2 linked regions of the Homo sapiens genome follow. The gene in region 2 interacts genetically with the main gene of each other region. Each region holds a gene or a part of one and is shown on either strand. Other genes may lie near its edges. The genes, in order: MST1R and PFKFB4.

What was found.
Region 1: changes in PFKFB4 (region 2) and MST1R together harm fitness less than expected from each alone (positive genetic interaction), as found in Homo sapiens cells (one large-scale study listed by BioGRID).

What each region holds. Positions count from the first base shown.
Region 1 is NC_000003.12:49,900,775-49,905,287, reverse strand, and holds the start of MST1R (macrophage-stimulating protein receptor isoform 1 preproprotein), read left to right. Parts: upstream 1-1,414; 5' UTR 1,415-1,678; coding exon 1,679-2,908; intron 2,909-4,513. UniProt on the Homo sapiens protein: Receptor tyrosine kinase that transduces signals from the extracellular matrix into the cytoplasm by binding to MST1 ligand. Regulates many physiological processes including cell survival, migration and differentiation.
Region 2 is NC_000003.12:48,532,650-48,536,456, forward strand, and holds part of PFKFB4 (6-phosphofructo-2-kinase/fructose-2,6-bisphosphatase 4), read right to left. Parts: coding exon 3,607-3,807; intron 3,010-3,606; coding exon 2,863-3,009; intron 1-2,862. UniProt on the Homo sapiens protein: Synthesis and degradation of fructose 2,6-bisphosphate.

The sequences.
Region 1 (4,513 bases), 1.4 Mb from region 2:
CTGTCTGTTCACCATGTTGGTCTTGAACTCCTGACCTCAAGCGATCCACCCGCCTCGGCCTCCCAAAGTGCTGGGATTACAGGCGTGAGCCACCACGCCCGGTCACATATTTTATTTTAAAAACATTTTTAGCAGTTTTTTTGTTTTGTTGAGTTTTGTTATGTTGCCCAGGCTGGTCTTGAACTCCTAACCTCAAGCAATCCTCCTGCCTTGGCCCCTCAAAGGAGTGCTAGGATTACAGGCATGAGCCACGGTGCCCAGCCCAGAACTACATTCTCATTGAAGAGAATAAGATCCAGCAAGGCCTACAGAGCATGTTGGAAGTGTCCTGAGAGCCAAAGCCCATGATTCCTCCATATCAGGGGGGCACTGGGTAGAGCCAGGAAGGAAGGGGGAGTCCCCAAGGCCCATACTGTGGACCCCATTATACAGCTTCCATATACTGAGGCTGCAGAGGAGGTATGGGCCTCCACTTACGTGCCTCTCTGACTCTGAGGTCCAGTCAGCAAGGCCAGATCCCATCCTAAGACCCTTATGGCCCTGGGAGAGCAGGGCATAACACACCTTCCTCTGACACCATCTTGTCGCTGATAGCTCAGGAGAAGCACATGGAAGAATGGTCCCGGCCGGGCGCGGTGGCTTACGCCTGTAATCCCAACAGTTTGGGAGGCTGAGGCGGGCGGATCACCTGAGGTCAGGAGTTTGAGACCAGCCTGGCCAACACTGTGAATCCTGTCTCTACTAAAAATACAAAATTAGCCGGGTGTGGTGGTGCGCGCCTGTAATCCCAGCTATTCAGGAGGTTGAGACAGGAGGAGGTTGAGGCTGGAGAATCGCTTGAACCTGGGAGGCGGAGTTTGCAGTGAGCCGAGATCGCGCCACTGCAATCCAGCTTGGGCCACAGAGCAAGACTCCTTCTCAAAAAAAAAAAAGGACAGTCCTTTCCCACAAAGGGTGGCGCCCCATAACATCTCTTGTAAGTGCCCCACATCTCCCCTCTGGTCTTCCACACAATCCTGGTCTCTGTTCTCCACATGGTGGGCCCCCAGGCCACCTCTGGGCACCAGCCACTGAGGGTGTTGCTACTAAGTGCAAACTAGTTCCACCGCAAGCAAAGAGCCCAGTGTCCTGCCCCCCTTCTCGCTGCGAACCAGTCGGTAGTGGGGGGATGGGATGGGACGGCTCAGACTGGCTCACCTCTCTCCAGGCCACACCATGCACATCCACCCACAGGCCGCTGAGAAAAAGGCGCCAAGACGCCAGGTGAAGGTACAGGAGCCAGGCCTCCAAGGGCCGGAAGAGTCGGATGGGCGGAGGGCCTGGGCTAGGCCAAGCCTTCCTCGCGGCCCCGCCCCCACGGCCCGACTCCGCCCGCCCAGCCCGGCGCCCTCGGGTCGGCTGAGCGCTAAGCGCCAGTGTACAGCGGCGGCTGGGGCGGCAGGTGAGGCGGCTGGGGCGTTGCTGTCGTGCGTCCGCAGGCGTCAGGTGCTCAGACCCGAGGGCCGGGAAGGGATTTGGGTTTCACAGGAACCTGGGGCGGGGGTCCGCTATCTTGGGGCTGTCGGGACCGCTGCTTAAATTTGGCCCAGTCCAGACCTCGAGTCGGGCCCCCAGCCAGGCCCACGCCCAGGTCCAGGCCCAGGCCGGTAGGGATCCTCTAGGGTCCCAGCTCGCCTCGATGGAGCTCCTCCCGCCGCTGCCTCAGTCCTTCCTGTTGCTGCTGCTGTTGCCTGCCAAGCCCGCGGCGGGCGAGGACTGGCAGTGCCCGCGCACCCCCTACGCGGCCTCTCGCGACTTTGACGTGAAGTACGTGGTGCCCAGCTTCTCCGCCGGAGGCCTGGTACAGGCCATGGTGACCTACGAGGGCGACAGAAATGAGAGTGCTGTGTTTGTAGCCATACGCAATCGCCTGCATGTGCTTGGGCCTGACCTGAAGTCTGTCCAGAGCCTGGCCACGGGCCCTGCTGGAGACCCTGGCTGCCAGACGTGTGCAGCCTGTGGCCCAGGACCCCACGGCCCTCCCGGTGACACAGACACAAAGGTGCTGGTGCTGGATCCCGCGCTGCCTGCGCTGGTCAGTTGTGGCTCCAGCCTGCAGGGCCGCTGCTTCCTGCATGACCTAGAGCCCCAAGGGACAGCCGTGCATCTGGCAGCGCCAGCCTGCCTCTTCTCAGCCCACCATAACCGGCCCGATGACTGCCCCGACTGTGTGGCCAGCCCATTGGGCACCCGTGTAACTGTGGTTGAGCAAGGCCAGGCCTCCTATTTCTACGTGGCATCCTCACTGGACGCAGCCGTGGCTGCCAGCTTCAGCCCACGCTCAGTGTCTATCAGGCGTCTCAAGGCTGACGCCTCGGGATTCGCACCGGGCTTTGTGGCGTTGTCAGTGCTGCCCAAGCATCTTGTCTCCTACAGTATTGAATACGTGCACAGCTTCCACACGGGAGCCTTCGTATACTTCCTGACTGTACAGCCGGCCAGCGTGACAGATGATCCTAGTGCCCTGCACACACGCCTGGCACGGCTTAGCGCCACTGAGCCAGAGTTGGGTGACTATCGGGAGCTGGTCCTCGACTGCAGATTTGCTCCAAAACGCAGGCGCCGGGGGGCCCCAGAAGGCGGACAGCCCTACCCTGTGCTGCGGGTGGCCCACTCCGCTCCAGTGGGTGCCCAACTTGCCACTGAGCTGAGCATCGCCGAGGGCCAGGAAGTACTATTTGGGGTCTTTGTGACTGGCAAGGATGGTGGTCCTGGCGTGGGCCCCAACTCTGTCGTCTGTGCCTTCCCCATTGACCTGCTGGACACACTAATTGATGAGGGTGTGGAGCGCTGTTGTGAATCCCCAGTCCATCCAGGCCTCCGGCGAGGCCTCGACTTCTTCCAGTCGCCCAGTTTTTGCCCCAACCCGGTAAGCTGAAAGAAGGGGCCCTTACTTGTGAGCTGCATGCACATGGCTGAACACAGGCTGCTTCCCTTCCATCACTGAGGGGATCTGGGGGCGCGGTGGGGGGGCAGGCGGAAAGAAGCATTCTCTCTCACCCAGTTCCTAAGTGCTGGGGTGGTGTGAGAAACCAGCCAGACAAAGGCTACACTGGAGGCTTAGCTCCCAGGCTGGCCCTTGTGGCTGCCTCATCTTGCTCTTTCCCCTACCTGCCCATCATGGCCTCTGGTTTTTTAGGTAGTTTCCCTGGCTATGTGAGGATAGGGTTACATAACCGTGTCTCTGTTAGCATAGCTCCTGAATGCTGGGTAGAATGATGGGCATTCCCTCCTACTTGTCCACCACCCATATCCTCAGGGACACACGCAGAAAAATAGCACTCCCCCCTCCCCTCCCCCACCCCCGCCACCACCACCACCACCACGCACAAATACACAGGGAGATGCTCACAGATTCACAGACTCACAGCTGCTTGCCAACAGTTTCACTTTCCCTTGTTTTGCTCTGCTTTCCAAAGGGGGTGGGACGGGAGTTGTCAGAGAATCTCCCCTTCCTCCACACCCCCTCCCCCCACCCACCCCCATCCTTCTGCCAGCCACCACGTTCCAGGGAGCCTCCTGGGCCTTGGAAGTTGGGAGCTTGTTAGGGAGCCTGCATGTCCTGGGCTTCACTAACGTTTTTGCCATGATTGGGGGTGATTGGGGGAGTACCCAGAACTCATGGAATGGCAGCTTGGTTCTAGAAGGTTCTGGGAGCCTCACTCTAGTCTTGTGCAAGCAACTATAAACATCTGGGGATAAGTAAAGGCCTAGGAAGGGCTGGTTGGAATTGGTCCATCCCAGACTTTTTTTTTTAACTGTATTTGGAGCCCTACCCCAGGCAGGAAGTCTCAAAGCCTGTGCTGAACTGGGGGCTCCTTCCACAGACTCTATCTAGGTTCTCTCCAGCCATCGTGTAGGCAACAGCAGTAAGATTGGACCAAGGAATGGGACCCACAGCTACTGTTCTTAGATTCTCTAGCTATCATCCTGTGGCCCTGGGCCTGCTGTGACATTCTCGAAAGACTCCTTTCCGCTCCTATTGATGCCTCGGAGATGGGAGAACTTACACCCAATGTGAGGTTGGGGGTCTTTAGCCTCCCTCCCTCTGCTGAGTACATCTGGGTTGAGAGGCCCTAGGGTTGGGGACTCCTTGTCTGGGCCTGGGCAGGCCTGCCTGGCCCCTTCTCCTTCCCAATGGGGAGTCAGAACCTCTCCCCAGCTTGCCTAGTGGTCAGTGGGTCAGAAGACACCCAGCACGGCTGGGCAGTGCCAGGCTCCAGGAAGACTAATCTTGGTCCCTGCTCACAGGCTGGCCAGGCCCCCAGGAGGTGTGTGAATCACCCCGTGCAGTGTTTGCCCAGCAACTCTGGGCATGCAGCCACTAGGGCAGCACCCACATAGTGGTTGGCCTCAGGAGGCCTGAGGGACTCAGAGCTGGTGCCTGTCCTCCATGGGACATTGGACACTTACGTGTTTTCAGGAGCTGGGGGCCCCTACCTAAGCCTGGGAACGTAGAGCTAAGGTCCTGGGG
Region 2 (3,807 bases):
AGACCAACCTGGGCAATATAGTGAGCCTCCCTTCTCTACAAAAAATAAAAAAATTATCTAGGCATGGTGGTGTGCACTTGTTAGTCCCAGCTACTAGGGAGGCAAGAGAATCGTTGAGTCTAGGAGTTTGAGGCTGCAGTGATTTCCACATTGCACTGTAGCCTGGGTGACAGAGTGAGATGCTGTCTTAAAAAATAAACAGGAAGGAAACTCTTGCACAAGCTACAACATGGATGAACCTTGAGGATATTATGCTAACTAAAGTAACCAGTTACAAAAAGACAAATACTATATGATTTCACTTATATGAGGTATATAAAGTAGTCAAAGTCATAAAGACAGAAAGTGGTTGCCAGGGGCTGGGAGTAGCAAATAGAGTTATTGTTTTTCTTTTTAAAATTTTTTTAGAGATGGGGTCTCACTATGTTGTCCAGGCTGGAGTGCAAGGGCCAATCGTGAATGAAATCATAGCACACCACAGCCTCAAACTCATGGGCTCAAGCAATCCTCCCACCTCAGCCTCCCAAGTACCTGGGACTATAGGTGTGAGCCAGCACATCTGGCTTGAGTTATTGTTCAGTGGGTACAGAGTTTCTGTTTTACAAGATTAAAAGAGTTCTGGAGATGCATGGTGGTGAGAGTTGCATAACAATGTAAATGTACTTCATACTCCTGAAACGTACACTTCAAAACAGCTATGATGGTAAATTTTATGTTATGCATATTTTACCACAGTAAAAAAAAATGGAAAAACAAAAGCAGGGGTGGTAATATTCAAATTAGTCAAAGTATATATCCACAGAAAAAGCTTTTCATATTGAAATGGGAACCACCCATAATAAAGACCAAGCCATGATGGAGCAACTGGTACCAGATTTGCTCTGGCCCCAACAAAAACAACTATTATTAAAAAAGGACAAATTGGCAGGGCGCTGTGGCTGACACCTGTAATCCTAGAACTTTGGGAGGTTGAGGTGGGTGGATTGCCTGAGGTCAGGAATTCAAGACCAGCCTGGCCAACGTGGTGAAACCCTGTCTCTACTAAAAATACAAAAATTAGTTGGTGTGGTGGCGGGTGCCTATAATCCCAGCTACTCTGGAGGCTGAGGCACAAGAATCGCTTGAACCCGGGAGACGAAGGTGGCAGTGAGCCGAGATCGTGCCATTGCACTCCAGCCTGGACAACAGGAGCAAACCTCCGTCTCAAAAAAATAAATAAATAAAGGGACAAATCAAACAACTGTTTTTAGACACGAGACTAGGCAGGACTGTGATCCTTGAGAGAAGGGAAGCAAGCTGAGGGGAGGAGGCAGCAGCTTACTGCCCAGAGGCACTTCCTGGACTGCAGAGCCAAGCATAATGAAGAAATAATGGAAGATTCAAAAAAGGAACAAAATGAAATTCCTGGAGCTTCAAAACACCACATCTGATATGAAAAGTTCACTGGATGGGTTTAATAAAAATGCAGAAGTAAAGATAAGTGAATTTGAAGACATAGCAGTAGAAACTATCTAAATTAAAGCTCGGAAGGAAAAAAAGACAGAGAAGAAATGAACAGAAGAAATTAAAAAACCAGAAGTTCAGTGACCTGTGGGATGATACCAAACAGTCTAACACACACAGAGTGGGAGTCCAGGATGGGAGAAGGGGTGGCAGAAAATACCTTTGAAGAAATGATGGCCAACAATTCTTCACATTTTATATTTAGAAACCCAGAAATCCGAGAATCTCAATAAACCCCAAGGATGATAAACATAAAGAAAACCATACTGAGATACATCATAATCAAATTGCTAAAAATCAGCAATAAAGAGAAAATATTCCAGCCTAGGCAACATCATGAGACTCCGTCTCTACAAAAATTAGAAAAGATTAGCCTGGCATGGTGGCAAGTGCCTGTAGTCCCAGCTAGTCAGGAGGTTGAGATGGGAGGATGGCTTGAGCCCAGGAAGTTGAGGCTACAGTGAGCTATGATTGCACCACAGCACTCCAGCTTGGGTGACAGAGTAAGATCTTGTCTTGAAAAAAAAAAAAAAAAGAAGAAAAGAAAATATTAAAGGCAGTCAGAGAAAAAGGAGGTAACATTATATCCAGAAGAGCAAAGATGAGAATGACAACAGACTTCTCTTAGAAACAATGCAACCCAGAAGTCAGCAGAAGAGCATTTTTTTTTTTTTGAGACAGAACATCACTCTGTTGCCCAGGCTGGAGTGCAGTGGCACAATCTCAGCCCACTGCAACCTCTGTCTCCTGGGTTCAAGCAATTCTCCTGCCTCAGCCTCCCGAGTACGTGGGATTACAGGTACCCACCACCATGCCTGGCTAATTTTTGTATTTTCAGTAGAGATGGGGTTTCACCATGTTGGCCAGGCTGGACTCAAACTCCTGACTTGAGGTGATCCGCCCGCCTCAGCCTCCCAAAGTGCTGGGATTACAAGGGTGAGCCACCGCACCTGGCGAGAACAGCATCTTTAAAGAGACAAAGGCCGTGCTGGTTCACCTCATTTGTGTCTCCAGATCCCTGGGAGGTTGGCTATGGCTGACTGCAGCTACCAAGCTCCCGTGGCCGCTGATTTCTTGTTGAGCTAGACCATGAGGAACCCTAGCAGGAGGCCACAGGGAGGGAGGAGAGTGAGGTTGAGGTGTCAACTCCCAGGCTCACTCCTGAGAATGGTCTAGGGCTCACCCAAGGTCCCATCCTGTTAGGCTGCCTTTTCCTCTCTGCTCCCAGCCCCTAGGTTCCTGTATCCTTTCTCTCTCCTCTCCTTTGCCCAAGGGGAGCAATGGTCACTGTTGTTACAATATGATGCAGCAGCCCTGCGGTATCTGGGAGGTAGACAGGGAGGGAGGGACGGTAACTACCGCATCGATCTCGTTGAGGACCTTCCACTGTTCATAGGGCACACCCAGTGCCTCAGCCGTCTGGATTGTCCTCTTCATCTGGCTTGTCCAGACCTTCAGATCCTTGATATTTTGGTCACTGATGAACTGGGCTAGACTCTTGGCAAACTGAAATACATCATAAGCAAACTCAGACCCACAGGTCTTGGGCTGCCCTTAAAGCATCCCATAGCCGCAGGGTCCATGAGATCACCCTCGCCTTGAACACTCACTACAGGTTTGGTAAAAAGCATGAACTAACTTGTCGATGACACACATGCTGACACACAAGAACACAAGTGCTGTTCCTGTGCACCCTCCCAGACCCTGAGCACAGCAGCACAGTTACAGCTGAGACTCATCAGGGCCACTGCCTCCCCACAACCAGGTGCCCTGTGCTACGTGACCACTGAGGTCTCCCCTGGACTGTGGCACAGCTATCTGCTACACTGTATGGACTCAGGTCGCTCTAAGGGTGGCATGCCTCTGACAAAAGGGGCTCAGTGAGTGACAGCTCACATGGAAACCAGAGATCCAGGCATTTGCCTGTTGCTTGATGACCTTCCCTACATGATGGGAAGATTCTAGGTTGAATGAAGGTCATTCACCTCGACTGCACATTAAAAGAATGGGAGCCTAGCCCCAGCGCACTCACACATGCATATACCCAGCCACGCAGGGTACAAATGCAGGCCCGTGTGCGCACGCAGGGACACATGCACTGACCTCCCTGCCCCGAGGGGACAGTCCTGGGTCCCCGCCAATCCGGCCCTTGAGGTTGAGCTCGCTCTCCCCGTGCCGGCAGAGGTAGATGGAGCGGGGGGTCACGTGGATGTTCATGAGGTAATATACGATGCGGCTCTGGATGTGGTCAGCCACACGGTTCACCACGTAGCTCTGGCCCACATCCATGATCTTGATATAGGA